Homo sapiens: one gene and its partner. The protein of the gene in region 1 interacts with the protein of each later gene in a biochemical or structural test. Each region holds a gene or a part of one and is shown on either strand. Other genes may lie near its edges. The genes, in order: TRAF3IP1 and UBXN10.

What was found.
Region 2: the proteins of TRAF3IP1 (region 1) and UBXN10 form a complex in vitro, tested with the Homo sapiens proteins (one study listed by BioGRID).

The regions. Positions count from the first base shown.
Region 1 is NC_000002.12:238,334,723-238,351,682, forward strand, and holds part of TRAF3IP1 (TRAF3-interacting protein 1), read left to right. Parts: intron 1-2,029; coding exon of another isoform or gene 2,030-2,131; intron 2,132-3,639; coding exon 3,640-3,735; intron 3,736-9,078; exon of another isoform or gene 9,079-9,332; coding exon of another isoform or gene 9,333-9,459; intron 9,460-9,774; coding exon 9,775-9,876; intron 9,877-12,732; coding exon 12,733-12,753; intron 12,754-14,041; coding exon 14,042-14,126; intron 14,127-14,602; coding exon 14,603-14,686; intron 14,687-16,960.
Region 2 is NC_000001.11:20,182,102-20,189,095, forward strand, and holds the start of UBXN10 (UBX domain-containing protein 10), read left to right. Parts: upstream 1-3,994; 5' UTR 3,995-4,052; exon of another isoform or gene 4,053-6,519; intron 6,520-6,994. UniProt on the Homo sapiens protein: VCP/p97-binding protein required for ciliogenesis. Acts as a tethering factor that facilitates recruitment of VCP/p97 to the intraflagellar transport complex B (IFT-B) in cilia.

The DNA of each region.
Region 1 (16,960 bases):
GCTTAGATGGTAGGTTCCACATGTGCACAATAATTAGTAATGCGTTTGTGACCAGCTTAGTGCCAGAAGCCTTTGCTGTCTTTTGGTTGACCGCTGTGGGGTAGGTTTCCAGAAGCGCAGTGGCTGGCACAAAGGGTGTGGCATTATGGCTACTGCGTGCCCTTAATGACCCTTCACCCCACACCTTCTCCAGTGTTGTTAAGGCATGCTGATTTTGATGGACGAAAAACAAAAACGTTGATGACCAGTGAAATGGTCCTTGTCATCGCGTGTGAGTGTTTTGGGCGTCTCTGACCTGCCTGTTCTTTGGTTTCTCTGGGTTCTTACTGATTTGCTTGCACGTGCTGTATGTTAAGGACATCTGCCAATTTGCCAGTTTTTGCATGAGTGTTTCTTTTTCAGTTTGTTTCTACTAATTATATTTGGTTTGGTTTCTGATTTGCCTAAGTGTTAAACTGTTATGTGCTTGAGGCCTCTAATCTTTTTTTTGGTAATCTGTCCAGAGATTTGAGAGGTGAAGATTTGTGCTTTATCATACATTTTTTTTTACTTAATTTCTTATGTTATCTCTTACTTTAATTCATGGTATAAGGTGAGGCTCTGAATCTATTTTGTCAGAATAATCCATCCGTGGTTCCAGGATCACTTATTCATTGAATGCTTCTCTCCTGCTCTGTGAAGCCTTTTGTAGTCTGGGTTACGGGCTTTTTTGTGTGTGGTGTTTTTTACTTCCACTTTTTTATTTTTACTATTAGTTTTCTATCATTGTTCTTTTCCAAAAAGTTTTAAGCCATCTTATTTGCTTATTCTTCCGGATGAATTTTAAAAACTCTTCATGACTCAAGAATTCCACTCTTGCAAAATAAACTAACGTCTCAGAATTTAACTGGACTTGTGTTAAATATATGCTTTCATTAGTTTAGGAAGTTTAGGCACCTCTAACTTCAGCTTAGTGAAGGTGTCCCCCTCTTCTGAGAACACGTTGCGTGTACTTGGTTGCGTATGTTGGTCACAGTGGTTGCTCGCTGGTTTATTTTATTTTATTTTATTTATTTATTTATTTATTTATTTATTTATTTATTTATTTATTTATTTTGAGACGGAGTCTCACTCTGTTGCCAGACTGGAGTGCAGTGGCGCAATCATGGCTCACTGCAACCTCACTGCAAGTGATTCTTCTGCCTCAGCCTCCTGAGTAGCTGGGATTACATGTGTATGCCACCACGCCCAGCTAATTTTTTGTATTTTTAGTAGAGACAGGGTTTTACCATGTTGGCCAGGCTGGTCTCGAACTCTTGACCTCAAGTGATCTGCCCGCCTCAGCCTCCCAAAGTGCTGGGATTACAGCTGTAAGCCACTGTGCCTGGCCTGTTGTTGCCTCTTAATCCAGTAGTTCTTCTGTTGATTCTTTTGGCTTTCCTAAGCAGACAGTTGTATCATCTGCTCTTCTTTTCTAATTGCTTCTGATATGTGCATCTGTGTTTACTGGTGAGCTTGTGCTCTAGGGTTCTTTTGTATGGTCTTAAGAGATTTTATTAGCAGACATTTATGGGCTTTTTGACACTGAGCTTCCCTGAGCTATCAACAGCTCAGTGGACTCCTGTCTTCCCCTCCTGCTAGCCGGGCACTGACCTCCCTGTGGGTTCCCCAGCAAAGCTGGCACTCTGCCTGAACATTCTGCCTCGCTTAAGTAGGTTCTCATTTGGGCAAATGCTCAGTACCCAGAGGTGTGTGACACACTGGACCTCTGTGTCTTGCTCAAGGGGATGAATGAGACTTTACTACAGGGTGTGAGGGTATCACATTGTTAAACATATTTAGACTCTTAAAGTCATTCTGGAATCCCTGCAGAATCCAGAAAGCATTCTGCCTGAGAATATTATAATTTTTGCTTATTTCTAAGTAGTGCATACAGAGCTGATCACTTTGACTTAATGAGTACATTTTAATTTCATTTGTTTGTTAACTGCTTTACATTACATTACAGATTAAGTTTAATATATATTTTCATTGTGCAATTTTATGTCAGGAAGAAGGGACCCTAAAACCAGTGAAAATAGTCTTTCCCCTGAAAAGGAACATAACTTTTCCTACTGTAAAGCTAAGAAGGAACATAGCATGAAACAGCTTGGTAAGCTAAGTGAACCATAGTGGAGGCTGTGAGTGAATGTTGAGAGTTGAAAGCTTTACTGCCTGGTCCTGTGCTTCTGCTTGGTCATTGAACATGTGGAAGTCTGTGGGGGTGGTTGGCATAGGTGTGGCCCTGCTTGACCTGGGGCCTGCGCTCTAGAACACTGCCTTCTGGCCAGGGTGGAGAGGGGGCAGAGGGACATGTTGGCCCCATGCAGGGCTGCCCCTGGCCAGGTGAGGATTTCCTACCCTGAGTCAATCACAGGCTTAAATTGTCCATTTGAGCCTTCCTTCACTGATTCTGCAGACATTTATGATAATAAAGAGAACACAGGGGTACATATGTGCATGTTAGTTTGTGATGAATCTTCAAGGAAAATGAAGCCAAGAGGAGCAGGAATGAGGGGCGTGAGCAGGGAGGGCCTCTCTGAGGGAGGACATCTGGACAGAGAGCTGACTTGGGTGAAGGAGGACATGCAGGTGTGTGAGTGGTGAGGTGGGTGGAGAGAGGAACAGTGATAGGGGAAAGGGCCGGGCCAGGAAGCAGGGCCTGGAGCTGCTGGTCCCGGAGCTGCTGTTCCCGGTCCACAGCAGCTGTGTGGTTTACAGTGAGTGCACACAGAAGTCCTTGAAGAGTTTTAAGCAGCACCGAGGCAAGATTTGACTTAGGTTGTAGAAGGCCTCCTTTTAAAACTGTGGAGTGGCAGGAGTAAAGGCTGCAGCGCAGCGAGGAGGGGGCCATGGCATCTGGATGAGAGGAGGTGATGGTTTGGACCAGAGTGCCAGTGGTGACAGCAGAGTGGGTTTACTGTGCTGGCAGGTTGGATGCCACTTGTTTGAACGGAAAGGAATCAAAGATGAGATTCATTGTGGGAGGGGTCTGGGCTCCTAGGGGGTGGCCTTTATTGACATAGACGGTTCTGGGAGACACTGGTTGGTGGAATGGGTGGCAGTGTTAGGAATTCTGTGTTGGACAACAAATTTGAGATGGCTATGGACCAACCAAGTAGAAACATCTAGTCGACAGCTGGATATATTGACTTGGAGATCAGGAGAGAGCTGGAGAAACCAAAGGGAAAAACAAAAAATGGAGAGTTCTAGCATACAAGTGATGTTTACGGACATGGACCTTTGCGCAGTAATTAGTCCAGGGGCGTGTGTAGGTAGGAAAGGACGTGGTGAACTCCAGAGCTTGCTGTGGTCCCCCAGGTCAGAAGAGGAAGAGGAGGAGGAGGAAGAGGAGGAGGGAGGATCATCCTTGCAAAGGAAACAGAAGGCCAACAAGTTGGAGGAAAACTTGGAGAGGAAGAAAGTGTTAGGGAAGGAGAGGGGGCTTCTTGTCAAGCTCTAAGGAGGGGAATCATGTGGAGGCTGAGAATTGACCATTTAGTTGACAAGACAGTTTGCTGGTGACCTTGGTGTAATGTAACCCTTATAAATCCCAGCTAAAACAACCAAACACAAAATCTTTTATAATATTTTAATCTGTTGTTAACTATTTTATGTCAGGAAGGAAGGAGGATAATATTTCAGCTAAAAGTTTAGACTCCATAGTGTCTGGAATAAATAATGAGCCAAATCAGGAAACGACAACATCAGAAATAGGTAAGAAAAATATATTCTTTAGTTTAAATTCCTCACCACTTTAATGTGAATGGTTATATCTCAATGTAGTTATACATTGTTAAAAAATTATTCTAACTACTTTAATGTTCATGAGACTTTTTCATGATGTATTGAAGACTGGACATAACTTGAGGTTTTATTTGCTTTAATATGCTAAGTTATGTAACTTTATTAACTCAGCTTTTAGTTAATTATATGCCTTTTTATACATAGATTATTTTTACATTTCAGTCAAAATGCTTTCTTAATCTTGCTGTCGGGATCTCACAGTGGTGTGGCTGATGACATAGAGAAACGGTTTTTATGTCTTCGTCCTGCTCTGCTTTATTCTACTCAGAAAATGCTCGCAGTAGAGATGTTTAAAGTGCTAGTTAGGCACGTTGGGGAAGTTGGCCTGTCACAGCCAATCACATTCAGTCCAGCCGTGTGGTGGGTGTGCCCAGCCCTCGTCCTGCTGCCTCAGAGGGGGTGGTCCTTGGTTCAGTATCAGTAACCACTGTCATCTGTGACTTCAGACGGAATTCTTCAAGATGCTAGAATTCTTCAGTTTCACTTAAGGTAAAAATAGTGTAAAATTAGACTTTAGGGGAAGAGGAAATTTTTGCTGGGCCCAACTTGCCTTGTATCTGTCTGACTTTTACACGTTCTGGAGCGTAGCTGGAATACCGATCAGCACATCCTTCTCTCTCTGTGTGCGTTCCCCTGAGAGCTGGCATTTCCAGGAGTGGGCGCACTTGGTACAGCAGCCGCAGTGTGAAAGATGATCTGTGGTTATTTTATTCCAAGTAGGGTGACTATATGGGAGTTGTCTGGGTCTTCAGTAGCATGGGATGGCGGAGGAAAAGGTGACTGAGCTGGAGCAGGGTGTTTCCACTGAAGAGAGCCCCTGCCATACAGGCATGCATGTTACCATTCAACCACATCTTGGTGATGTATGTTTTCTTTTTGTGGGAGCTTTCCTCATCTCCAGGCGCCTGGGGGGAAACACCCAGGCACACTGCAATCCTGCACTGCAGGAGAGGGCAGCAGGCAGTGGCGAAAGCCTGAGGGGTGGACTCCTGGTAGCCCCCACCCAGCTAGCTAGGACCTCATCTCTGAGGCCACAGGGATGACTCCCCACTTCCTGCTTACCTGCCTCATGGCCTTGAGCCAGCCACGTGAGTGGGTTCTCTGAGCCACAGTTTCCTCGTCATAAATGGGCGTAAAGATACCTGCCTTGAGGGTGAACGAGGTGTCCATTAAGTGGTGGCTTGCCCCAGGCACGCCGCGGTCTAACCCGCTTTATCACGGATCACCTCTGCTGAGCTGCCAGCCCCAGATCAGGGCGAGACAGCGCTCATCCTGAGATGGGCAATGGATTTAGAACAAATTGAAATCATTCTCCAGACACGTAGTGAGGACTGTGTAGGTAATATCAACAAGTGTGAAGATAACACAAACCCAGGCAGTAAGAAGCACAAACTGCAAACGTGGTTTCTGGGTTGAACTTTTTGCAGAGATTGGGATGGAGCCTGATGCCACCTGCTGGGGAGCAGAGTCTCCCGCTGTCCTTGGGTGGCAGTGTGCGGTGGGTGGCGGGGCGGGGGGGTTGGGAACAGTGGCCAGGAGCAGAGTCTGGGCTCTGGAGAGACTCCCGGTCCCTTGTCTTTCTCCTCCCCCCGACCCTGGCCCTGCTCCCCTAGGGTCCTGCCACAGCGCGGACCTGGGGTCTCTGTCCTCGCAGTTGCAGGTGTTACCTTGCACTGGTCATGGTTTAACATTTGGAATTCAGAGTTTGCTGGCAGTTGTTACAGTTCCTTAATTTCTTCATTGAGGGTGCACTGCTATTGGGTCTGGTTAATGAGCTGGTCCTCACAGTACCTTTCCTTCTTAGTGCTTCGAAGAAAAGTCCATGTTGTCAAAGCCGGCCTTTGTTGCACTGACTGACCCGGCCCTCGTGAGCCCTGTGCCCATAGCCTGGGTCATCATCAGAGAATTTGTGGGTTTTATTGTTACCATTTTGATTTTTTGGGTGGATTAAAGAGTTCAACAAGGAATTTATCCATTTCTTTTTCAAAACATGAACAATTTCTTCCTGTACTCCAGTTGTTATGCAAGCTGTAAGGCATGCTTTGTTCGCTTTACAATTGTGTGACAGTTCCAGGTTTTTCTGGAACATTAAGTCAGGTCTTTATTTTGCTTAGTTTCCCTCATTTCATTTTTGCTTACTTCTCTAACTGTTTCTATTGTGAAAAATATGGAAAAGTAGAAAGAATAGTACAACTAGTGCCCATATACCTCTCACCCAGATTCACTAGTTTTACGTTTGCCATTTTGCTTAATGTACAGTTATGCGTGTGTGTGTGTGTGTGTGTGTATATATATATATAGAGAGAGAGAGACAGAGAGACAGAGACAGAGACAGAGTCTCACTCTGTTGCTCAGGCTCGGGTACAGTGGCATGATCTCAGCTCACTGCAACCTCCGCCTCCCGGGTTCAAGCGATTCTTCTGCCTCAGCCTCCTGAGTAGCTGGGACTACAGGTGTGTGCCACGATACCCGGCTTCTTATGTGTATTTTTGAGACAGGGCTTTGCTCTGTCACTCAGCCTGGAGTGCAGTGGTATGATCATAGCTCACTGCAGTCTTGAACTCCTTGGCTCAAGTGATCCTCCTGCCTCAGCCTCTTGACTAGCTAGGACTACAGGCATGTGTCACCATGCCTAGCTAATTTTTTTTTTTTTTTTGTAGAGAGAGCATCTCACTTTGTTGCCTAGGCTGGTTTGAACTCCTGGGCTCAAGTGATCCTTTCACCTCAGACTCCCAAAGTGCTGGGATTACAGGCATAAGCCAGCAGACCCAGCATATAGTTACATATTTTAATGAACTGTTTCAAAGTATGTTAAAAAAACATCCTAACACTTTATCTCTAAATACTTCGACATGCAGCTTTAAAAAAAAGTACATTTTCCTACATAGCCAGAAAAGTATTGTCTAACTGAACTCAGTTATTGCTTCCTGATAGCATCTAAAACCCAAGCTGTATTCTAATTGTCCCAGAAATGTTTTTCTATTCTTTTTTTTTTTTTTAAAAAAAAAACACTGGCTATTTGATGACATTTAACTTAGTGTAGCTAAAATTTGCGCAGAACACTGGCCGAATGATGGACCTCTTTCAATTGTATTTATGGGCCGTACGTCTGATTAGTTTCAATAACAGTGACTGATAGGGACTGGCCCCTCCCAGCCGGGCACAGTGCTCCTTGCTGTATGCACAAGATCTCATTTGACTCAGGATGGCTCTGTGAGGCGGGGCAAACTGGGCAAACTGCGGCTCAGGAAGGCTGAGGGACCTGACCAAAGCATAGCCCATGGAGAGAGGAAGCGCCAGTGTTCCACCCTAGGGCGTCTTGAGCCAGGGCTCACATTCTCACCTACAAGGTTCATTGGTTACCAGGTAGCTCTAGAAAACAGATTGTGCTTATGCTGTGACTCTTTTTTTTTTATTTTGCCAATTCATAGTCATTTTTATTTTATTTTATTTCTTTTTTGAGATGGAGTCTCACTCTATTGCCAGGTTGGAGTGCAGTAGTGTGATCTTGGCTCACTGCAACCTCCACCTCCTAGGTTCAGGGGATTCTCATGTCTCAGCCTCCTGAGTAGCTGGGATTACAGGCGTGTGCCACTAGGTTCAGCTAATTTTTGTGTTTTCAGTAGAGATGGGGTTTCACCATGTTGGCCAGACTGGTCTCAAACTCCTGAGCTCAGGTGATCCACCTGTCTGGGCCTCTCAAAGTGCTGGGATTACAGGTGTGAGCCACCGCTCCTGGCCGTCATTTTCATTTTATAAGTGCATTATTTATTTGTTTAAAACTATTATTTGACAAATTGGTTAGTCCCTTCTCTGTGATTATGAATTGATTCTACAGTGTGGTATAATTAGTGAGCTATAGTCTGTTTTCATGTTCTTTCTCTCGGTGTGAACTTGGGGTTTAGTAAAGCTTACATAAGAATACCACTAGAACTTTGAAAAGGTAAAATTGTGAAAGTGTCATTGGTCTCTGAACTACAGAATGAAGATAATGCATTTATAATTTGCTTACTGTGATGGTGAATATGGTAGAGTATGGAAAACATTTGACACTTTGAAATCAAGTACACAACTTAAAATTATTAGAGTGTTTTCTTCTAAAGTTGAGCATCTACAACCGCCAAACTTATGTTTATTTTTAGATTTTTTTTTGTTAAGAACTTAATATTTCATGTTTATTCTCTGGTTACCCTGAGTAAAATATAAATAACTGTTTGAATCAGACTATTTAAGTCAGTATCATTTTCACAGATTGATAAAAATGTCTTTGCAAAATTATGTGTCATCTATTTTATGTAGTTCTATTACATTATAAATAAAACAGTTATATGATAGTTAATGTCAGGTTGATTCTGATGTAAGCTGTTTTGAATAGTTTTAAGAATTATAAGATTGTGTTTCAGGAAAGGGAACATTTTACAATTTTATTTTTGTCTCTCAGTTTCTTTTTAGAGTGGTAGGTCCTTTGACTGAAGCTAGTTTTCCAGCTCTGGGTCCTGCTGTAATATAGAACCTATTCCTCTAGCCCCTCATCTGGGCCCCCTATTTTTTTTTTTTTGAGACAGAGTCTGGCTCTGTCACCAGGCTGGAGTGCAGTGGCACGATCTCGCTCACTGCAACCTCTGCTTCCCGGGTCCAAGAGATTCTCCTGCCTTAGCCTCCCGAGTGGCTGGGACTACAGGCATGTGCCACCACACCCGGCTAATTTTTCTATTTTTAGTAGAGATGGGGTTTCACCATGTTGGCCAGGATGGTCTCGCTCTCTTGAGCTCATGATCCACCGGCCTCAGCCTCCCAAAGTGCTGGGATTATAGGCGTGAGCCACCACACCTGGCTCCTACCCTTTTTTTTTCAGACATGATCTCGCTCTTACATGCAGGCTGGAGAGTGGTGGCATGATCATGGCTCACTGCAGCCTCGACCTCCTGGGCTCACGTGATTCTCTTGCCTCAGCCTCCTGGGTAGCTGGGACTACAGGCACCTGCCACCATGCCTAGCTAATTTTTGTAGATATGAGGTTTCGCTATGTTGCCCAGGCTGGTGCCTGCCTTGGCCTCCTAAAGTGTTGAGACTTCAGGCATGAGCCACTGTGCTTGGCCTTTTTTTTTTTTTTTTTTTTCCCCGAGATAGGGTCTTACTCTTTGCCCTGGGCTGGAGTGCAGTGGCGTGATCACAGCTTATTGCAGCCTAAACTCCTGGACTCAAGTGATCCTACCATCTCAGCCTCCTGAGTAGCTGGGACTACGGGTGTGTGTAACCATGCTTGGCTAGCTTTTTAAATTTTATATTTTTTTGTGTAGACGAGTTCTCTCTGTGTTACCTAGGTTGTCTTTACTCCTGGGTTCAAGTGATCCTCCCACCTAGGCCTCCCAAAATGCGGGGATTATAGGTGTGAGCCACTGTGCCCAGCCTGTTTTTTTTTTCACAGCAAAAATATTTTCTCAGGTATTTGATATTTTTTCTATCTTCATAAACTTTGGAACATCAGTCAGTAATTAGTAGACAATATGTGGAAGTTTTCAATATGGCCAGGACTGTGCACTGTGTCCAAAATATTTTTCTTTTCTTCCTGCATTCCTGAAACAGCCGCCTACTTGCAGCCTCTCAGCTGCTGGGTCTGGCTCTACTGGGGAGGTGAGTGGAGACTGGCAGTGTCAGGTAGCTCCAGAAATGGGGGGCGGGGGCAGTCTGCTCCTCCTGGCCTGAGTAGACCAAGGATCCACTCATAGTCTGGGGTGTCCTTTCCCTTTCACCCCAGAGCCGCCCATGGGGGAGGAACATTCTAGATGCATGTTTTCTAAAAGCTGCCTTTGGTCAGTCCTTTGTCAGTCCTAACTTGCAGTGTGGGAAAACATAGATAAGTAAGTGTGCTCTATGTTAATGAAGCCGCTGATCACCGGCCCTTTGGTGTACAGTCTTAATGACTAATTTTAAACTGTTTTATGTCAGGAACAAAAGAAGCTAATATTAACTCAACTAGTATTTCAGATGATAATTCAGCTAGTCTGCGGTGTGAGAATATTCAGCCCAACCCCACAGAGAAGCAGAAAGGTAAGAATGGTCCAGTTTCGCCCTTTCCTGGCGAGAGCAGAGTGAGCCCTCCAGAACCTTCTTCTCAAAGGGCCGCAGCCCAGAGCCCGAGGTTTTCCTCTTGGGTCTGAACGTGGCAAGTGATTCACAGTGATTCACTTCTGCCTTTTTGCATAAACTAGAATCGAACATGGTGGTTTCTTGATAGCATGGGACCCACTCGTGTGCTCCCCCGTGCTCTGTAAGTGAGAGGAGGTGGCATGTTTCATCACTTGGGGGGTGTCATGAGTGGTCCCTGAAAAGTTTCGGGGTCACTACTTGGAGAGCCCCACCAGTCAAGAGGTGTACCCCCCAGACTTCATGGTCACAGTGCTGTGGCCACCATGATTTTTCTGTCTGTCATTTTCTTTGAGTGTTGAATTATACCTCAGTGGGATTTTACTTTCACCATAAATTTTCTCAGCCTTTAAAAAAACTTTGGTAAAATAGCCATTCAATGTTTGTGTTTTGAGGCCTTGGAGCTCCTAACAGGCCTGCAAGGGTACCAGTGCCCAGGTAACCAAGGCTTGTGCAGGTGGCAGCGGCAGGGTGGGGTGTGGCCAGGGGAGGGCTGATGTTTGTTGATTTGTTCAAACAGAAAATTATCTGTTGAAGGCCTACTGCATGTCAGCCCTGAGGCTGGGAGCGCATGAGCCAGTGAAGTCAGGCTGGCCTCCTGCCTTCCTGGTGCAGATGAGGCTCGAAGATCAACCGAAATCGTTTGATGGGGTGGCAGTCTGGGACGGGAGGGGCCTTGGTTGGTGAGGGTGGCCCAGAAAGCCTGCAGGGCAGAAGGGGCTGTATAAACCAAGATCCCGGCTGGGATGCGACTGCAGCAGGGCTGGCTCAGCCCAGAGGAAGGGCCAGAGCCAGGTCCCTGTGCCAGCTTATGGAGTTTAGCCTTTATTGGAAGAGCAGCGGGAGGCTAATTATATCTTTAGGAGGAGCAGTATAATGATATTTAGATTTTAAAGAGTGGCCATGTTAATTAGGGAGGGTTAAAGATTGTGCAGAGAAGAGAGAGAGGCCTGGACTGTGGAGGCGCCCTGGGAGGGGAGAAGTGGTAGGATTCCAGGGCTGCTGGCACGTGCTGGGGGAGCTGGCCTGGAGCGTAGAGGGAAGGCCCAGGCTAGAGAGGAGCTGTGAGAGTTGCTGGCGCTGGGTGATGGCAGGAGCCTGGGTGGGGACTGGGTCACCTAGGACGAGATTGTGAGTGCAGGAGCTGGCAGAGCACTGGCGCTGTGGAAGCACAGGCGTCGGGGAGGATGGTGTGGGCCATGTGGCAGGTGCCTTGGGTTCTGGGTAACGGGGACTGGAAGTATCCATTGAAAGGTAGAGAGTTCACTGTGCTGACTTTCCTTCTGGGTATCGGCCTTGTGGTTGAATAACTGCACCTCTCAGGCACCTTTTTGAGTGCTGTGTTAATCCAGGGTCTGTTCCTAACACCCTGGTGTTTTGAAGAAAGAGCCGGGGATTTGAAACTGTGTCTGCTGCCTGCCCCCAGGTCGCACGAGGACTCTCAGTGCTGGTTTCTGCTAAGCACACGCTCCAGGCCGCACAGCCATGAGGAAAAGATCTTCTGCCACCTGCTCTTGGTCCCCAGCAGTCCCATCCCAGGGTTGAGCTGAGTCCTCTGCCCCCATTGGCCCAAAGTGCTGGGGTCTCTGAAACTGCCCTTGTAGTGGCACTATCTGGAACCACATTCTCCAGCCCCCTGCTAACCACTGTGCCCTCCAGTCCCCTAGGCCCTGGTGGGTGCCAGGCTACCCCCTGTGCTGTGGCACTTTGTGGGGTGTGACCTCTGGAGGTTCTCAGGCCCATACTAATAGAGTCCTCTAGAGCCTCCCGGTTCCCCTTGATCCACAAGCTTGGCCCCCTCTCTCCCTGCCAGAGCCACCCTCTTAAGGCAGCATTTATGAGCTCGTGGCTGTTATGCTCACAGAAAGTCCTCCTGTGAATAAACGAGCTAGAGGTGTCTGTAGAGTGCTCCTCACTCTGCTCGGTGTGGACCCTCACAATAACCCAGGCTGATTTCTCGAGGCTGCATGAACTGTTCCTGTCTGAGGCGGGGCCGTGTTAAACGAGGCGCTGCATCAGGCCCTGCTGCCTCCTCTCTGCCGTATAGTGTGCTGGGCTGTCATGTGAATCCATGCGCTTTCTGCTCTTCTGCAAATGCGTTCGTGCATCTTAAGAGTGTGAAACAGAGATTTCCCACCTGTGGTTTTGAATCACCCCACCCCTGTGGTGCCACTGCTCATTTACTTTGACCGTTTAGGTCACATTTGTCCTCAAGACAACACTTGAAGAAAAAGGATCCTGGGTGAAGGTGCAGAGGTGGGCCTCTGTTGAGCTGGAAGATTTTCTTCTGCTTTCAGGAGCTGATGGAAAAATGCTTACCAATCATGTCTATAAGATGGGCTGTTGTTGACTGTCTCCCAGTCTTTGGAACGGCCCGGGATTTGGTTGGCCGGGTTCAGACTGTTGCATCGTTCCCTCACATTTGGATGCACTTTTTCTGTGGCTCTGGCTTTGTCGATTCTTGTCTCATGAACTTGTTAACTTCCTCTCCGATGTGCTTTCTCCACATCCCTGTGTCCTGTTTCTATTTAGTACCATTTTATGATGCACAGTTTGTTTGCTCTTTGTTTTTCTATCTTTGAAAATAAAACAAAATGGCAATAGGGACATTAGAAAAGCGGCTATGAGGAAATGATCTTTTTTTCTTAGCAGACATCCAAAATTATGTACAGTGTGTTTTTTCTCCAATTCTGTTCTCATCATTTAATGTATTGAGGTTGACTACACGAAAGCTAATTTTCTGATGTGCTTTTTCTTTAGGTGACTCCACCAGTGATGCAGGTGAGGAATGGCCTTAGATACCTGTGTGTCATATCAATTGTATGCATGTGTGTGAATGTGAATGTGGACTCTCAGATTCATGCTTTATAAAGTGCATTAGTGAAAGTAACTTATTTTATGGAAAAAGATCATAACTACCCTAATGTATTTATTTATTTATTTATTTTTTGAGATGGAGTTTCACTCTTGTTGCCCAGGCTGGAGTGCAATGGCATGATCTCGGTTCACCGCAACCTCTGCCTCCCGGGTTCAAGCAATTCTCCTGCCTCAGCCTCCTGAGTAGCTGGGATTACAGGCATGCACCACCACGCCCGGCTAATTTTGTATTTTTAGTAGAGACGGGGTTTCTCCATGTTGGTCAAGCTGGTCTCGAACTCCTGACCTCAGGTGATCCACCTGCCTCGGCCTCCCAAAGTTCTGGGATTACAGGTGTGAGTTACTGCGCCTGGCCAACTACCCTAATTTAATTTGAAATTTAATTTATATGTTTTAAGTTTGAAAACAATACATTTCAGGATTTTTTTCCAGAATATAAAGTATATTTCTAATATTCAAATTCTGACTATTTTCTGAAGTGTTAATTCCTTTTACTTTAAATAGTGGAGTAAACTTGTCTTAATAGTTTAGGCCTTGTTATTTACTGATTAATTCTTTTTATCAAAATGAAGAAAACTTTGTTCAGATTATAAACATAATATGGTATACCAATGTAGAAAAATTTAAAAATGCAAAAAAAAAAGAACAAAAATTAAAAGCACTGGTAATTCTACTGCTTATAACTTAAATGAATATTCTTCTAGAACCCTGTATATATATATATGCATATGTATATAATTGTTAGATATATTACTGTACTGGATTGTTTCACACAAAAGGGAGCTGACATGTGACTGTACCATAATTTACTTAGTTACTGATTGATTGTCAGTATTACCAGTGACGATGGGTGAACATCTTGACATGTGTCCATTTCTCCTCTTGGGTTGTATTTCCTTTAAGTGCTCAGTTGATCAGCCTGCCTTTTGAATTTTATTTCTGAAGTAGTTGAACCAGTTTGTATTCCCTGGGTTTGAGTGTGCCCATTTTCCCAAATCTTCACTGAGTTTAGATATCAGACATCGATTTTCTCTTCATCAACATGATTGATGGAAAAATTGCTCATTTGTATTTGCAATTACAAATGTATTTGATTGCAAATAACTGCAAATACAGATGCAAATAGTATTTTCAAATAGTTATCTATGTGTGTTTTCCTTTGTGAATTGCTAATTGATTGTCATTTGTTTAGAAGGAGATGCTGGACCTGCTGGCCAAGATAAGTCTGAGGTGCCAGAGACTCCAGAAATTCCTAATGAGCTTTCATCCAACATCAGGTCTGTGTGCTTTGAATCCCTTTCCCTCAGCAGAGTGATCACACCTAGGACACTGCTGTGCTTCTCTTTCTGGCTGCTGCTATTTATTTAGTGCTTGAGCTAACTTATGAGGAATTACTTATACAAAGAATACAAGAAGTATATCAGTTTTCTGTACTGGAGTTATATCACTATATAGTGATATAATATTTTGGAGATTTAGGGGAATTCAAAATTATAGCTGAATTATGTGATGTTTTGATTAGTGACAGTTGTTGGTATTTTGAAATTACTGAAAATACAAGTGGAAAGATGGACACTTTCTGATTGGTCGGGTTACTGGGACGTTCCTCCTCTTCTGCAGAGTAGCGTGTCCTAACCAGCACATTGATTATGGCTTGGAGATGAGAGTTAACATTCACCTGGGCTTTCTTTTCCAGTTTGAAATGTATAAGCCTTTCATACTCCTTTTTTGGTTTTCCAATATTTGGGTTTAGAAGAATTCCTCGGCCTGGGAGTGCAAGACCAGCCCCTCCCCGGGTCAAACGGCAAGACAGCATGGAGGCGCTACAAATGGATAGGTAAGGCTGGCTCAGCAGGGCAGTTCCAGCCACACAGTGTGTTCTCCAGTGGGCATGGTGCCTCCGCTAAGAGAAGGGGGAGGGAAGCAGCACATGGTGCTGGAAACATGCTATTGAGGAACAAAAAGTGAGGGTAGGCCCTCGCCTCACACCATAGGCCAACAGACATGTCAGATGGATGAAAGAGAAAAACCATGCATACATGTAAAATACATCTTCACATCTATGGGAAAATGTTGGACTGCATTTCTCTGACCCCTAGATTGAAGACTTTCTAAGCGTGAAAACAATAGGGGAATTAGGAAAAAATAGGGGAAAAAAATTAGGGGCTTAATTGCAGAAAAATTAAAAATAGAAGGTGATCAAAATGTTATAAGCAGGCTGGGCCTGGTGGTTCACGCCTGTAATCCCAACATTTTGGGAGGCCGAGGCGGGCGGATGGCTTGAGGTCAGGAGTTTGAGACCAGCCTGGCCAATGTGGTGAAACCCCCGTCTCTACTAAAAATACAAAAGTTAGCTGGGCGTGGTGGCGTGTGCCTGTAGTCCCAGCTACTCAGGAGGCTGAGGCAGAAGAATCACTTGAACCTGGGAGGTGGAGGTTATAATGAGCTGAGATTGCACTGCTGTACTCCAGCCTGGGCGACAGAGTGAGACTATCTCAAAAAAAAAAATAAAGTCATAAGCAATATAAAGACAAACAACAGATAGGATGGATCAGAGTGGGTTTCAGATCAAATAAGAGGCAGGGATTGGAGGCAGGAGTAGATGTGTTTTTCTAGGAGTTTTGCCACAAAGAGAAGGGAAGGAATAAGACTAGAAAGTGGGAAAGGTGGTGTCAAGGGGAGTTATTATTTTTCTAATGACGGGAATGATCCAGTGGAAAGGGGAAATTGATGACGTAGGCGACGTGGGACAGGGGTTTGGTGGAGCAGAGTCCCCGTGTGGGTGTGGGAACGGGCGCGGAGGTGGAGTCGGCACATGGTGTGATGCAGATTCTTAAGGTGATTTTCTGGTACTTATTTTTCTCATGAGCCGTAAGAGGGTCTGGGGGAAGAGGAGTGTCAGAGGAGAGAGGGGCTGGGTGAAGTCGCTGTGCACGAGAGTGGGCTAGTGAAGAGACTGGAGCAGAGGTTTTCCTCTAGGGGTGATCCTACTTTGGGGACACTGGGCCATGATCTGGAGACATTTTCTGGTGTTCTGATGAAGGGGAGGGGTTAGGGCAGGGCAGTTGCTGAACCTCCTACAATGCACAGGACAGTCTCCACCACAAAGGAGGATGGGCTGCCTGCCCATAGTGCCTGGGCGGAGGCCGTGGCTGACAGCTGACTTCAGGGCAGCATCTGGTGGACTTGGGCGTAAAGAGACAGAAGATGGTGTGGCGGGGCCTGTTCTGCAGCTGCAGTTGGCTACACCTACAGGCACTGGGGGGCACAGGCTGTATTAAACAGGGCTCGGCTGTGCCAAGCAAGTGCACCGAGAGAGAAGGGAAGGAGTAGGAGTATGTGGAAGCGCCACGGTCATGACCAATGTGGGATTTATGCCAGTGAGTGAGGGAGGAGCCCTCGGGGTGAAGGTCAGGAGGAGGCATTAGGATTGAGAGGCTGAAGGTGCCGGATGGATAGAAGGATTGTTGGAGTCAGGTCCTAGGGCGGTGAGCTGGGAATATAGATAGTGGTGGTAAAGGAGTGGGGCGCTTGGATTTGAGGTTGGAGCTTGCTGTTAGTGGTAGTGACAGGGGTGCCCCTGGGAGTGGGCGTCGAGTGTGGGAGGTGGGATCATCCCAGCAGGGTTCAGGGACCCAAGGCCAGGATTTTGGAAGGATCATTTCTCAATACTTGAAATCACAAGTAAGACAGGAGCACCGTTGGTGAGAGTGGCGGGTCCAGGAGGACTGGGTGGGACCATGGGTTGGCAGCTGATGGCAGCAATGATGGGGTCGAGGGTGACAAGATTTAAAGTTGGCAGTTTTTAGGGAGAGTGATCTGGAAGCCGAAGCAAGCATAAGGAAATTACTGACCTTCCCTCTGGGCCCGTGACAAGAGGCCGGTGGGAGGAGCAGCAGCTGCAGCTGAGGGCTGTGGGGAAGCTGTGTCCTGGAGAGCAAGGCGGGACAGAGAGGGCCTGCCGATCACGGCAGGCACAGGGGCGCAGGTGTTGAGGAGGTGGATCGTGGGCCACAGTGAGGGTGTGCTGGGAGCGTGAGAGACGAGGGACGGGAGCCTGGACTTCCTGGTACTGACAGAGCAGCGGGTTCGAAGTGAGGTTGGTCCTGGC
Region 2 (6,994 bases), on another chromosome or scaffold:
TCTGCTTAACAAGACTGGAAAGCAGGCTATACATTTTTGGATATTTTCCAACAATACGGGGAAAATAATAAAAAGCTGTGGTACAGTCATGCACCATATAATGACATTTTGGTCCAATGACAGACCACACATACGATGGTGGTCCCATAAGATTATAAGGTAGCTGCGCTATATAGGCATACCATTTTTTTTATCTTTTATACCATATTTTAAATTGTACCTTTTCTATGTTTAGATCTGTTTGGATACACAAATACTTACTATTGTGTTACAATTGCCATTGTGTTACAGTATTTAGAACGGCAACATGCTGTACAGGTTTGTGGCCTAGGAGCAACAGGCTATACCATATAACCTAGGTGTGTAGCAGGCTAGACCATCTAGGTTTGGGTAAGCACACTCCACAATGTTTGCACAATGAAAAAATCACCTAGCAATGAAGTTGTCAGCATGTATCCCCATGGTTAAGTGACCCATGTCTGTACTTCAAGGGTTAAGTTTCATCATCCAGAAACTTCCCTCTTGCAGATCCCCTTAGGAAGCTGATCACAGGAGCCATGACTAACTGCCAGCCTCTTGGCCTTGCTACTAGAATATCCACCTGGTTCACCTTCTGCTTAAAGGTTATCCATGATCTCAATCCACATGTCTAATGAGACCAAGGACAGGCAGAGCAGGACACTGGCTATAGACTCTGAAATCTAGAAATCACTAATTCAAAATGGGGCCAAACACTCTGTGGGGACAAGCCGCTAAGAAACCGGGGCCCCCGCCTTCAGCAAGCCCCTGGGGAGGTCATTTGGACCCCAAGCCAAATATGGTTGGGGAGGATACCAGTTAGCAGCTTGCTGGATCGCTCAGTGGAAACGCTAGCCTTGGAATCAGCACCACCATCATCATTGCCGAGCACGTATCACAAAGTAAGCATTGTGTGGACAAGGCAGGGGATTCCGAGACAGGCAAGTTCCTGCCTTCAAGGAGCTCATAACCTACTGAAGGAGATGTACACTGTAAGTGAAGATGATGCAACAAGAGTTAGTAGCCCTCACTAAGCACTTGGCACGTGTGTTACCTCATTTCAGCCGCACAACAATCCTGTGCTTATCATCACCATTCTAGAGATGCGGAAACTGACATCCAGCGAAGGTAAATCATTTACCTAACGTCTTCAGCTGGCAAGTGGTGGAGCCAGGATTGATACTCAAGCTTTGACGTCAGAGGCCATGCCTGCAGTCCCCACGACCAGTGCAACGGACAGCACAGATAAGGGCCATGGGGGAACACGCAGGTGAGGAGCTTGGGGGTGGGACTCTGGGGTCCAGGGTGGGCTTTGGAAACTGCTGGATGCAGGTTGTAAAATTGCTCTGCTGCTCCTTCACCAGGGGGAACCCTGAGGCTCCACTGTTTTCTAAAGCAAAGGAGGGCTATGATGCCTCCATTAAGGAGCGTTGTGAAGATGAAGGGAGCCGACCTAGGGAGGGTGCACAGCACCATCTTGGGCATGTTCCACTGGACCAAAGGCGACCAGAGAGAGCACATGAGCTTTTGTGGGGAGGCTGTGGTCAGGAAAGGGCTTCACGGAAGAGGTGGCTTTTAAGATGGGCCTTGAAGGATCAGTCATTTTGGCTTAACTTCAAGGAAGAGAGCAGGGTGGGGCAGGCATGGGCAAAGACACTGGAGATGAAAAAGCTGGGGCCCATCTGGGGAGCAAGCTGGCTGCAGCCCAGGGAGAGAGCTGGAGAGTAGATTGGGACATGGCTAGAAAGGAAGGTGAGTCCACATTTCAGCTGGCAGGGCAATGACCTCTGCCCATGTTTACTGAGATCCACTCTGGGTATGTGCCAGACACCAGGCATTATCAGGTCTGTCCTTTGAAGACATCCTCTTTATAGAAGGTCGGGCACAAAGGCAGCAGAGGCACAGCAATGGACTGGCGCCTTCCTTTCCTCCTCTCCTGCCTCCCCCTGGGGCTGGGCATTACACAACACTGGAGAGCAAAAGGCAGGTACTGCTGACGTTAACTGCATGTACTGCTGACATTAAACAGACCGCCATTTCACTGTGCACTGGCAAAGGCGCGCGTGCGTGCGCACACGCACACACACACACACACACACACACACACACGGTGAGAAGCCAATTTGATTCTCCAAAGGATTGTATAATTCTTAGGTGATTTTAAAATAGCTGATGAAGAATCCACTTTAATCTTTTTTGGGTGGGTGATGAAGGGCTGAAGAGCATCGCTAAGACACTTTTGACAGAATCATTAACAAGAAATAAGCCGTCAGCACTCAGTTGCAAAACCAGCAGCTCCTAAAACCACCATCTTTTACACATTCCGAGGGCCACAGAGGCTTCCTGGATGACCAGAGTGTGTGAGGGGGCAACCCAAAGAAGAGGCCTGGCCCAGACCAGGCCCTCCCCAGCAACTCCCACGGGTCACAGACTTCCCTTCTGAGACGAGCAGAAACACCACCACTGACATGATCTTCTTTCACGACCCATGGAGGAGCAATTCACCTTGGAGAGAATCAGAAGACATTAGAACTGGAGGGAGGGAGGAAAGCAAGGAAGTGTAGGCAGGCAAGTTTGCAGGTCTGATGGCAGAAGGCTGAGGAAGTTTCCATATGATGGCTTCTATTTTCTCTCTGAAGAGGGCAGTAAAGGTATCTTCTAAGAGGGAGGAGGGAGGGAGGTGGGAGAGGGAGAGGTGGGAGGTTTCGCAAGCAAAACAACGTTTTGAAATAGCCATTGAGAAGAAAGGAGAGGCTGGGCGAGGTGGCTCATGTCTGTAATCTCAGCACTTTGGGAGGCTGAGGCGGGAGGATCACTTGAGCCCAAGACTTCAAGACCACCCTCAGCAACATGGCAGAACCCCATTCTACAAAAAATAATAAAAATTAGCCAAGCATGGTGGTGCACGCCTGTAGTCCCAGCTACAAGGGAGGCTGAGCTGGGGAGGTCCAGGCTGCAGTGAGCTGTGATTGCACCACTGCACTCCAGCCTGGGTGAAGGGGCGAGACCCTGTCTCCCCTTAAAAAAGGAAGAAAAAGAAGAAAGGAGGGAGAGAGAACCCAGTGGTCGGTTGGGGATGGAAGTGCAGGGCTGAGAGTCTAACTGAGGTTAGAGACCTCGTGTTTCTGTTACACCAAGGTGTGTGGCTGGCCAAGACTTCTTCAATACCCGTGTGTAGGTGGACTGGTTTGGCTTCAGGTTTCATCAGATGGAAGGAGAGTAGGACTCGGGCAGGGAGGATCCTTTTGAGAATGCCGAGGTAATGGGCCAGGATAGGGAAGAAGCAGATTGATATCGAGGGGGAAAGCGGAGACAGCAATGGACAGGAAACCCAAAGATGGTGAAAAACAGATACAGCGGAAGTGACTCAAGTGGCTGGAAGTGGAAGAGATTGTGGCTGGGGACATCAAAGGAGGTGCAGATGCTGTTGATAAGGTTCCCAGTGTGGCCCCGGAGTGGGAGGCTGATGTGAAAAGAGGTCAGGGAACTGGCGCTGAAAGGGCTGTACTGAGGATGGGGGCCCTGCTCCCCGCAACTCAGATACCCTAGAAGCATCCACTCAGAGTTTAGGGTTCCGAGAATCCATCAGTCCCACAGCCTCATTTTAAAACCAGGGACACTGAGAGGGTCAGGGCCTGACCCAAGGTGAGAAACGGATTTTGAGACTAGTGGTGCTGCTCCCCGCTCCTCCATGCCCCGGCCAGGGCTCTCCCTCTCCCAGACACTCTCCCCCAGAGAGAAACAGAGGCGGTGACGCTAGGAAGAGGAGGAGAGAAGGAGGCCGCGGGTCCCTGTCGCCTCCAGGCCAGGCAATCCACTCCAGGCTCGCAATCCACCGACCTGGAGTTCACGGCCTCCGCCCTCCTGGCCCAGCGGCCCCCACCCGACCCCACCCGACCCCACCCGACCCAGGCCGGTTCCGGTCACGCCGGAAGCACGTGGCCCCCCACCCTGCGGCGTTGCCCGGGAGACCAGGGTTGTTTACCAGCAGGACAGAGCCCGGGCGCAGGCGGCGGATGGAGCGGAACGGCTAGGTGAGAGCGGCTGCCCGATCCCGCGGCCTGCCCTTGGCCTCCGCCAGGCCTGGAAGGGGCCGGGGGAGGCCAGTCCCCGAGACCCCAGCACATCACCCGGGAGGGCCTCCCCAGACCCAGCCCGGGGGACGCAAACCCCGGGAGACAGGCGAGGAGCCTGGAGAAAAGTCTGCTCCCGAGGCAAAGCAAGCCTGGCCAGAGCTCACCTTTACCAAAATAGGGTGACTCCCGGGCTCTGCAGAAACCGAGGGACCTATGCAACCGCTGGGCCATGCCCTCCAGGCTGGGATGTAGCGACGGGGACACAGACCCAGGGAGAGAAAAGGATGTCCCAGTCTCCGGCAGGGCAGAGACGAGAACCAGAGGGCCCCTCCCCCAGTCCTGTGCTCTTTCTCTGAAGTCAATTCTCGCTTTCTAAACGCTCTTTCTCGCCCCTCCCCCAGATCCCTCCTCTGCCTCTTAAGCCTGTTGCCTTCTAGGGCGCTGGAACTTGGACTTAATTGAGTTATCCCCACCACCTCCCTGCCCTTCTGACGCTGGAATCATCCCCAGTTCTCTATCCAAACATTTGATCACTTGGTGGCTTGTGGTTCAGTGTGGCACTCTGCATAGGACAGTGTATTCTAATCCCTAGTTTGGGGTAGAACTGGGAATGGTACCAGAGTTTTTTCATTCTCAGGCCAACCACCATCTCCTGTTGGTTCTTCAGAGCATTTTTATCCTGAAAGCCTGGTGGGGGTGTGGGTTGGGGGGGGCGGGATGGCAACGGATAGGATTAACTGATACAGTTTTAAAAGACCAATTCAAATGTATGTATCTTGGTATATACCAGCAGATGGTATGTAGGTGGTTATATTTTACTGCATATACTGTAGGCTTAGATTTGGGTTGTGAGTGAAATAGGGTGGTCTGACCCTGTGGTGGGTGGTGGGCACCCTTAGAAAGCAGGAGCCCTGCTTTAGCTTCTCCTATCCACATTTCCTTCTTTCCAGTTGATTTGGTGGTGAATCTTAAGGAATGGGCACCTGCCCTTCTGGCAACTTCTTGGAAACAGTTGGCAGTGTTTGCTTCCTGACTCCTAGCAGGCCGCTGGGGTGCAGCTATTGTGTTTAAGTAAACAGGCCACTCGCCTATTCAGCTTGGCAGCTTGATAGATGCCTACGCCTAGATCTTGTCAAATCGGTTTGTGGTTGAGTGGCTGCCAGGCCTAGAGGTGGTGAAGTGAACTGAGCAGGGAGAATCATGGCTGCTGCCTCAATCCTGGACTGAGGGTGGTGGGCAGAGTTCAGGACCTGAGGTGTGAATATAAAGGCACAGTTGGCCCAGATCCCCAAACACCTGTTTCCCCCACCGCCCATCCCTGTGTGATGGGTGCTGGGGAGAGCTGGTGTTCCCTCCGTGTAACAGATGGTCCCTGTGCTCGGGAGGAGGCAGTGGGTTATGAAAGCAGGTTGGATATAATGGTTTTACCTGAAGGAGGTGTTAGTCTCTAAATAACCATGAGTGGGCTCCTAGGAATTAGTCATAATTGAGGTTTTTCTCTGAGATAGCTCACAGTCATGTTATCTTATGACCAGGGTGTCTTGAATATGACACCCCCTGAACATGGATAATTATATGGAACCAAAAGGTATAGAAAGTGCATGCACATACTCAAGTTTTACTGTTAAAAATAATCCCACAGAGAGCCTGTGAGAACACATGACTCTCCTCATCAAAGTTGTTAAGGAAGAGGTTTCTAAGTTACCAAACTCACTGACAGTTAAACCTTCCTGAGGCATGTGTGGGTGTTGGAAGCCAAGCCTGTGATAATTCTGTAGAAGCTGTGGCAAATTAATAGCCATTCCACAAGTGGGGAGGGTGGGCCGAGAGGGGCGTGGGTTTGCCTGTGGAGCTTATCTTTGGCAGAACAGTTGGACAGTTATGACCTTCTCCTGCCATCCTGAGTGAAAGTGCAGAGCTGCTAATTGCCAGAGAAAGACTTGAGAAGGAGACTAAAGGGGGAAAAACACATTCTTCACAGTTGATCAGAAAATAGATGAAATTAACAAGGAGATGGGCAGTCTTTTTTGATGCCAAAAGTTTGCTAAGGAGAAGGCTCCTGAGCTACTAGCAGCCAGACTGGGTGTGAAAGACGAGGGAGAAGTGGAAAATGGGAGTGGAGAGAGACTCAGGCTGTGAGTGGAATGCAGCAGACATAGAGGCCTTTAAAAGAGGGTAGCTTTGTCCAAGATTTTGAATTGAGCAGGACATCAGGAAGATATAGGGATAATGTGTTGCGTTTGGTCCTGGTCTGAGTGGAGAGGAAGCAGATACTCCTTAAAATTAGGCAGCAGTGGTTACATGTGCAGAATGGTGAGGTTAGAATACAAACCCTGAGAGGCTCAGATTACATTGTTCAAGATTTTGTGATGAAAGGAGTGAATTTGCAGGAAGTGCAAATCATTCTGCAGGAAGTGAATCTGAGGTAAGTAAAATGTGGAATTAGAAGAGAAGTGATCAACTCGGGATTTTATTTTCACATGTTTTGAGGCAACTGCGTAGGTGGTAGCTCATTGCAGTCCACCTCCCTGCATTTCTGTGCAGTGGACAGGGCAGGCATGAGTTTCAGGACTCACCCAGCTGGTTAACCAGGAGTAGAATCACCGAGGACACACGGGGAAAAGTTCTAGAGCAAAACAAGGAAGGCTTTTGAACTTAGCACATAGGAAGCACTAAACAGACAACCCGAAGCAAACAACGACGACAACAAAAAACGCTTAACATTTAATTAAGTTTCTACCATGCACTAAGCCTGGTGCTTCCCACCTTACCTACATTATTTCATGTTATTATCCTCATGTTACAGACAAAAAGACTGATGTTCTGAGGTACTTAAGTAATACCTCTAAGATCATTTAGCTAATTTGATAGATGAGGAAAGTTTTGTGCCAGAAAGGTAG